Linked DNA regions of Homo sapiens: region 2 is linked to region 1. Evidence: fine-mapped expression QTL. A gene starts in region 1. The other region holds a variant in brackets. All regions are shown on one strand. Distances are between the middles of the regions. Region 1 holds the start of NADK (NAD kinase). Region 2 overlaps GNB1 (G protein subunit beta 1).

Region 1 (4,389 bases):
GGGAACATCTCTTCCCTTTGGTCTCAGCCCAAGCAAAGCTGCCTCTTGGACCATTCTGGGTGCCCTAAGGAGCCTTCCCAGCTTTGGTCTTAGTTATTGCTGGCCAGGCCTGGGGTGAGGTGTGGGTGTGAGATCTTGGCCCCTGAATCTTCAAGGTCATATCCGGGGCCTGCCCTGAGAAATTGCACAACCTGTCAGCTGAAGGAAACCACAGCCCTGGTTTTGTTTTCTCATCTCTGAAACAGGGAAGCTCTCCTGCAGGCAGTGCCCAGGCCCAGGGTAGACAAAGGGTTTTCATGCCACAGACGGGGCAGCTGCTGGAGCTCCCTACACAGCGGGACACGCGAAGGGCACCTGCTGTGTGACCTGGGGCCCACGACAGTCACTGGTTGCCTCTGCAGAAGCAGTTGACTGCCTCCACTCTAGAAGATTCTACTGAGGCCTGGCTCAGTGCCTGGCTTGTGGGTGCGCCATCTAGATCAAGCATTATTATGCTAATGATCATATGCAAAAACTCAGCTCACGCATTATTATGTTAATGATCTTATCCGCCCCCTCTCCCCCCGCCAAAGAAAAAGAACTGGGCAGCTCAAGGCCGCTTCTGTGGGTGTGGCTGGTGGTCACTTTGAAACAGTTGGGTTTGCAAAATAACCCCGGGAGAAGTTACAGAGCTTAAGAAATCCCCCAAGTTCTCATGATCCTTGCTTCCCTTTCCAGTCACCCTTGGTGCCCTGTACTTCACTGTGGTCCTGAACTGAAGAGCTGTGTTTTTCAGGAAGACTTGGCCAGGCCGTGTTCCGTGTCTCTGGATTCAAGTCCCAGGAGTCCTGACCAGAGAGCAGGTATGCGGGTGTGGGGAAGGGCTGCAGAGGACTCAGGTCCACACCGACCCTGGGCCAGGTGATCACACAGAAAGTATAGACAGGGACTGAACCTCAGAAAACAATGGCTGGGCCAGGTGCAGTGGCTTACGCCTATAATCCTAGTACTTTGGGAGGCCGAGGCGGGTGAAGTTTGAGACCCAGCCTGGGCAAAATGGTAAAACCTCATCTCTACACACACACACACACACACACACAAATATATATATATATGAATGAAGTAGTCGAGTGTGGCGGGACCTACTTGTAGTCCCAACTACTAGGGAAGCTGAAGTGGAAGGATCGCTTGCACCTGAGAGGTCAAGGCTGCAGTGAGCCGTGAGCCCGCCACTGGACTCCGGCCTGGGGGACGAATGAGACACTATCTCAGAAAAACAAAACAATGTCTGGCACCTGGGGGACCAGCAGGTTAGAGCAGCTGGTCGTGCATTGCCAGTTTACCTGACAGTGACTCGAGAGCTGAGAACTGGGTATAGGGCACATTATTGGGATATTTGAGGCCTGAAGGCGCTGATGAGCAGCCACCAGTTCAGCAAGTGCGGGCTGGGTGGGACCCGCAGTTCCAACAAACACTACAAAGTCCGCTCCTGTGGCTTTGGCCTCCTCCCCCAACTCCCCGAGTCCTCCAGCCTGTGGGGTGCGCAAAACACGGCTCCCTGGTCCCCCTAGAGGTGCCCCAGGCCACCGGGTCCTCCCTCCACTGCCAGCCTTGGGATCCCAAGCGTAGACCTCTGAGGACGTTCGTGGGCGTGCAAGGCGCACCTGGCCGCTAGAGGTGGGCGTGAGGCCGATCGCGGTTCCCCCAGGCGCAGGGCCGCCCTCCCAGCCCCGACGGACAGCCCCGAGGGAGCGCAGCGCTGCCGCAGCTGCTCTAAGTTTCGGTTCCCAAATCCGGCTCGGCCCACACCGTGTCACAGCCCGGTAATTAGGGAAGCGGCGGCGGGCGGGGCCAGCTCTCGCGGGGCACCTGCACTCCCCTGAGCCGGCCCACGTGGTCCGGGAGGTCCCGCCCGCGGTGGCGGTGAGTTGGGGGCGGGACGCCGGGCTGGGATCACAATGTCGGGGGCGCCTAGGCGTAGACGTGGCGGGCGGACCCGGGGGCGCCCTCCGGACGCGGCAGGTGAGTGGGGACGGGAGCCGGGGGCCGCCCTCCTCGGGGCGCCGACCCCCGCCTACCCGAGTCGCGGACGCCCGCCCCTGTCCCCGCTGCCCGCCTCCACTCCCTGGTCACTGCTCTCCACCGCGATTCGCCCCTCTTCCCCACCGCCCGCCTCTTTCCCGCCACGCCCGCCGCCTCCCGCCCGCGCGGGGTGTCCCGGCGCCGGTGGGACCCGGCAGACGCGCGGGACGCCCCACGTGCGCGGCAGCGCGCATGCGTGGCGGGTGCGCCTGCGCAGTGGGCGGGCGCGGCGCATTGCTGCTCGGCGGCGCCGGCGCCGGGGTCCGGGCGGCCATGGGGCAACAGGCGGCCAGGGCGCCAAGGGCCAGGTAGCGACGGCTGGCGGCGGCGCGGCGGCGGGGCCTGCGGGCTCGGTCCGGCATGTAGACGCCCCCGCAGGCGCCCGCGGCAGCGAACGGTGAGTGAGCAGACCCGGCCTGCCGTCCGCCTGGGGTCGCCCGCTGCCTGGGGTCATCGCTGCCCGCGAGCGCGCGGCCAGGCGGGGAGACACCAGGCCGGCCCTGCCCATCTGGCCTGCTGAGGAGGCCGTGGAAGTGCTGACGGGCCACCGCTCCGTCCCGAATGGGGCACCAGCACGGCCCAGGGCGAGGCTCGGCCTTGGGGACGGGTCTGAGGGAGGCCGCTGTCCGGCCTGGCTCTCCCGGGCGGGGAAGGTGGGGCCGTCCAGCCCGGACCGCGCTTGTCAGTCGCCTCTGCTTGGGCGGCCAGGTCCTCGGTGTCCGGCCTTCCGTGGGTGGTTTCAGCAAGCAGGAGGGGTCTTTGACTCGTGAAAGCTTAGAGGGGCCCAAACCTAGTGGGAAAGTATGAATAAAAGATTCTATACAGCAGTATTGGCATGGAATTCTCTAAAAACACATCTCTGATTTAGTGCCCAGTACTTGCCAGAAAATTCCAATAGTCTATGGTGATGTTCCTACAGGCGGCTGCCATCCAGTAGGTCAGATGTCAGCACCGGCCTTGAGCTCTAGGTCGTCGTTTTTTTTCTTAATTGTGGGAACAGGGCGTGCCCAGCTCCGAAGGCCTGGTGGAGTTTTCCTTCCCAGGCCAAGGACCACCCCCACCCTCCCATCCCTCCTCCCCAAGCAATGAGATTCCTTTTGGCTTCGATTCCGAGTAACAAGTTATTTTTCCTTTCTTGTTTTGGAACACACTAAGTTTTACATTCAAAAGTTCATTATTCTTGGCTCTTGATGGGAATACATTTCAAAACTCTTCTCTTCTTGTGTTCCATGTCTCTCTGACAGCCTTAGTTGGCCTGAAACTGACATGTTTGCCTTAATAAGTTTTTTTTTCCTCCTGATGTCATCTTGTCTAAGAAGCTAGTTACTTTAACACCTTGTTAGATAATTCCCTTCAAGTACTTATTCCCCTGAACATTGTCCTCTCAAGCCTCTGGAAATTTCCTGTCCCCTTGGAACTTCTCTGTAAGGCCTGTTTGCTCTCAGCAGTGACTTCACTGGGACTTTTGCAGCCACTTTATGGTGTTAGCACGCTGATTCCAAGCTACTTGAGGAATCACAGGTGCCACCGCAGTACCCAACAAAATAGCTTCATCATTTGGAGGTGTCCTCTCGAGATGTTTCTGTGTGTATATGTGTGTGTATGTTAGAAACAGGGCCTCACTCTGTCCTCCAGGCGTGTTTATGGTGGCATGATTATAGCTCACTGTAACCTCAAATTCCTGGGCTCAATTGATCCTCCCACCTCAGCCTCCTGAGTAGCTGGGATTACAGGCCTGCACCACCACACCTAGCTGATTTATAAAATTTTTTGTAGAGATAGAGTCTCACTGTGTTGTCCAGGCTAGTCTCAACCTCCTGGCCTCAAGAGATCCTCCTGCCTCCACTTCCCAAAGTGCTGATCTTACAGACGTAAGCCACTTTGACCAGTCTTTTTTTTTTTTTTTTTTTTTTAAGACAGAGTCTAGCTCTGTTGCCCAGGCTGGAGTGCAGTGGCACAATCTCGGCTCACTGCAACCTCCACCTCCCGGGTTCAAGTGATTTTCCTGCCTCAGCCTCCTGAGTAGCTGGGATTACAGGCGCCCACCACCACGCTCAGCTAATTTTTGTATTTTTAGTAGAGACGGGTTTCACTGTGTTGGCCAGGCTTGTCTCGAACTCCTGACCTCGTGATCAGCCCACCTTGGCCTCCCAAAGTGCTGGGATTACAGGTGTGAGCCACCACAGCTTGCCTCACTTGGACCAGTCTTTTTGTTTGTTTGTTTCATTTGAACTTGGAGGTGGGTTTATGTTGTTTCAGTTGGCAGCCTGCTGTTTGGTTCCAAAACAGCATTTTCTTCTTGAAACAACTGCTGTCAGCAGTTAGATT
Region 2 (4,389 bases), 39 kb before region 1:
AGCTGTGATGACATCACTGCACTCCAGGCTGGGCAACAGAGCCAGATCCTGTCATAAAAATAAATAAATACATAGTTTAAAAAAAAAAAGAGGCCAGGCGGGGTGGCTCACGCCTGTAATCCCAGCACTTTGGGAGGCTGAGATGAGCGGATCACCTGAGGTCAGGAGTTCTAGACCAGCCTGGCCAATATGGTGAAACCTCATCTCTACTAAAAATACTAAATTAGCCGGTGTGGTGGCACACGCCTGTGGTCTCAGCTACTCAAGAGGCTGAGACGGGAAGAATCACTTGAACCTGGGAGGCGGAGGCTGCGGTGAGCTGAGATCGCGACACAGCACTCCCGCCTGGGCAAGACAGAGCGAGACTCTGTCTCAAAAAAAAAAAATAGTTGTGATTAAAAAAAAAATTATACCAACACTCAAACTTTAAACCTGTTAGCCATTGTCTTATTTTCCTTCATGTTACGTACCTTTCTATTTCTAAACGTACGTTCTCTTTTGAGATTTCCAGGTCTATTTTCTAGTAACTTTGATCCCTTAGTAATGAAGACACTTGAGTTAGCATTGGTGGATCCCTTCACAGTGCCTACCTGCAGCCGCAGGTCATTTGTAGATGAGCAACGAGAACAGCCAAGAGGCTCATGTACATCTGATTGTCTGGCTCCAGGTCCCTTGCTCGTTTTCCATAGAATTTATTTATTTTTCTTTGTTTTCCTTTATTTTATTTTATTATTATTTTTGTTTTTTTTGAGATGGAGTCTTGCTCTGTTTCCCAGACTGGAGTGCAGTGGCGCAGTCTCGGCTCCCTGCAACCTCCGCCTCCCGGGTTCAAGTGATTCTCCTGCCTCAGCCTCCTGAGTAGCTGGGATTACAGGCGTGCGCCACCACACCCAGCTATTTTTTGTATTTTTAGTAGAGATGGGGTTTCACCATGTTGGCCAGGCTGGTCTTGAACTCCTGACCTCAGGTGATCCACCCACCTCGGCCTCCCAAAGTGCTGGGATTATAGGTGTCAGCCACCACACCCAGCCTATTTTCCTTAAATTTTTAATTTTTATTTTTAGTAGAGACAAGGTCTCACTTTGTTGCCCAGGCTGGTCTTGAACTCATGGGCTCAAGAGATCCTCCTGCCTCAGCTTCCCAAAGTGCTAGGATTACAGACGTGAGACCGCGCCCTCCATAGAATTTAGAATTAATGATTGTTTCTCTTGAAAACAAAGTACTTAGTTAATGCAGTCTGAAGAAAAGTTTTTTTGGGCTGGGTATCTGGTCCTTTTTAGACTTTTTTTTTTTTTTTTTTTTTTTTAATAGACCTTTTCTTTGGGCCACAGCCTTCCTGACCCTAGATGGGCTTTGTAAAAAGAGCAAGTCGTGTGTGCCAGCCTGTGCAGCAGTGAGGGCACAGGCAGCACCAGGGTCCCGGGTGTGTGGGTGCTGCCCCAGCTTGCAGTGTGGTCTCCTCGGTGCTGGCCACAGCTGTGGGTCCCCAGGAATATTGTGCTGCAGGTCTTAGACAGATTTGGGTACTACTGGTTCTCTGTTCAGCGTGGCCTGGACAGTCCACAGATGGTAGTAGACCATGGGGTGTTGAGATGCAAGGAGACTCTGCCGTTCTTTCACATTCTGCTTTTGCTCCTGACAGCTTAGGAAAGCTCTCTTTGAAACTTTGGTATGTGTGGACCTGAGATTGAATGTATCTGAAAGGTTGCTAATTTCTCACTGTCCTTGCTTCCCAGGACGCCAGGAAAGCATGTGCAGATGCAACTCTCTCTCAGGTAAGAGCCCACTGAGTCACGCAGAGCCATCTGCCTGTGAGGAGGCTAGCACGGCACCCACACCTGGAGCCTCGGGAGGGCTCTGCTTGCATTCTCTGTTGCGCAGTGAGGATGCCAAGCCACTGCTTTTATTAAGAAGTCATTCTGATGGTAGGCATAGGAAATAGAGGGGCTTATTGAGATAAAAATGAGATATCTCAAGCCTTGAATAATCATCTACCTGTTACAGAGGGTAATAGTTGTAAAATATTGTTATTGTCTTAAGATATTTTGAAGCTCCTCTCCTCAACAGAATCTGCCTCAGAACTTCTATTTCTAATATCCAATTTGATAATACCTCAAAAAGTTAAACATAGAATTATTGTATGACTCAGCAGTTCTGCCATTAAATATATGCCCAACAGGATTGAACACTGCTTTTCAAACACACACATGTACATAGCAGCACCATTCACAATAGCCAAAATGTAGAAACAACCAAAATGTGCATAAATGAATGAGTGGAGAAACAAATTGTGGTGTCTCTGTGCCCTGGAGTATTATCAGCCATTAAATGGACGTCAGTACAGTCAGAGGCTGCAACGTGGATAAACCCCATAAATATTACGATAGTGAGAGAAGCCAAACAAATGGCTATGTATTGTTTAGTTCTATTTATATGAAATATCTAGAATAGTAACATTCACTGAGACAGAGTGGACTAGTGGCCAGCAGGGGTGTTAGGGGAGAGAGGGAGAGGAAGTGAACAGGGAGTGACTGCTGAATCAATGTCTGGTCTCCTTTTGGAAGATGGTTTGGAACTAGATGGTGGCAGTGGTTTTACAAC[AATG/G]AGTGTACTAAATGCCACTGAACTGTAGACTTTAAAGTGATTAATTGGATGTTACGTGAACTTCACCTTATTAAAAAAATGAAGTCCATCCCAGCACTTTGGGAGGCCGAGGCAGGTGGATCACTTGAGGTCAGGAGTTCGAGACCAGCCTAACCAACATGGTGAAACCCTGTCCCTACTAAAATACAAAAATTAGCCAGGCATGGTGGCACACACCTGTAATCCCAGCTACTCAGGGGGCTGAGGCAGGAGAATTGCTTGGACCCGGGAGGCAGAGGTTGCAGTGAGCAGAGATCGCACCACTGCACTCCAGCCTGGGAGACAGAGCGAGACTCCATCTTAAAAAAAAAAAAAAAAAAAAAAGATAATAAAAATAAAGTCCAAATAATTGGACAGAAATGTGAAAGAAAAACTATATTCCTACTTCTACTGAAGATGATTAAGTTTTTTACATTGTCTAAATGCTTTAGGGGATGTGCTTTAATTGAGGTTAAATTGTAAGTTAAAGAAAAAAAAATTAGGCTACATAGAATTACCTGAATTTCAATTCTGAGAAGCACTTTGGACTGTCCGTTTTTAAAACCCACTATTGTAATCCACTTACTCCGTTTGCCAACCTAAACTCATTAACATCAGTGTCTATATGTAGGATGGGCTCAGCAGGTGTGTGTACAGCTGGTGCTCCAAGTGATGGTCGTGCAGAAGCAGGTGTCATGCAGGCCCACACATAGCCTGACATAGGAACCAGCTATTAAATTGTGGTGTGGGACATCTGTGTGGTGTCATAAGAAGAGTTGCGAGATCTCAAAGAACTCAGAGACCTAGGAGGAGATGGTCCTGGATGGACAGGGAGAGGAGGAAGGAAGCAGGAAGGGAACAGCAAGTGCTTCAAGGCTGGCCATGTTCGTGTGCGTGCATTGGAGGGCAGGGCACACAGGTTCCTGATGACCAGCCAGACTGAGACTTGGTAAGAGGTACGGAAGGGGTTCAGTGCAGAATGCCACAGTGGAAGCCACTGGAGAACTGTGGGAAGGGCTGGGAAGAGGTAGGCACAGTGGGCGAGCCAACAGCCTTGACAAGGATGGGTGATGAGGAGAATCGTTTAATCACAGATGTTGATTTACAGAAATGTTTTTATTTTCAAGATCACAAACAACATCGACCCAGTGGGAAGAATCCAAATGCGCACGAGGAGGACACTGCGGGGGCACCTGGCCAAGATCTACGCCATGCACTGGGGCACAGACTCCAGGTAGGCGTGGGCATGAGCAGGATGCTGCTTGTTACATTCAGGGGCTGCTCTGTTGTCCTAGGGGAAAAGTACCTGAACCCATTTGCTGTGCTGTGCAGTGAAGAAATTAGGAAGTTGAATCAGAACTCTGGGCACGCAAGGTGCAGCGTTCACAGGTGCATATTCCCTGTCCAGTTTTCCACTTACCTGGGCTGAAAGAACACTGCCATTTCTTCACTGTCTGAATCACATTAATACAAGTTCTGATTTTTCTTTCTCCCTTCTCCTGTCTCTTTCAGTTTCTAGACCTCTGTCTTCCCAGTTCTACTGCATCCTACTTATGTGAACTTGGGGAAGTTACCTCTCTGTGCCTGTTTCTCAGGGCTGGTTGGCCCTCGCCCTCTTGTGATGTCAGTGCCCTGGCTCAGGAAATCACAGAACCTGCCCCGAGGATCCTGAGGGATTAAGTGTATTGAGCCTTAGAACAGCATTGTGCTGTGTGTGCTTTGCTGCGGCAGACACACGGGAATGCGCTGTGAGCTGCTCTCACCATT

The links. PIP is the estimated chance that this variant, and not a neighbour inherited with it, causes the effect.
Region 2: its variant is the best candidate, but not a certain one, in a credible set for the expression of NADK in whole blood (TOPMed, PIP 0.51).

The regions. Positions count from the first base shown.
Region 1 is chr1:1,776,358-1,780,746 of GRCh38, reverse strand. It overlaps NADK (NAD kinase), which reads left to right and starts at 2,277. Exons shown (of 12, transcript NM_023018.5): 1 at 2,277-2,458. RefSeq lists enhancers at 72-171, 182-251, 262-321, 332-501 and a silencer at 1,562-2,761.
Region 2 is chr1:1,815,223-1,819,611 of GRCh38, reverse strand. It overlaps GNB1 (G protein subunit beta 1), which reads left to right. Exons shown (of 12, transcript NM_002074.5): 4 at 1,737-1,775; 5 at 3,750-3,856. Among named protein-coding and RNA genes, the nearest start is that of NADK, 39 kb to the right of the region's middle. The variant AATG/G (reference allele first, on the strand shown) is at 2,602.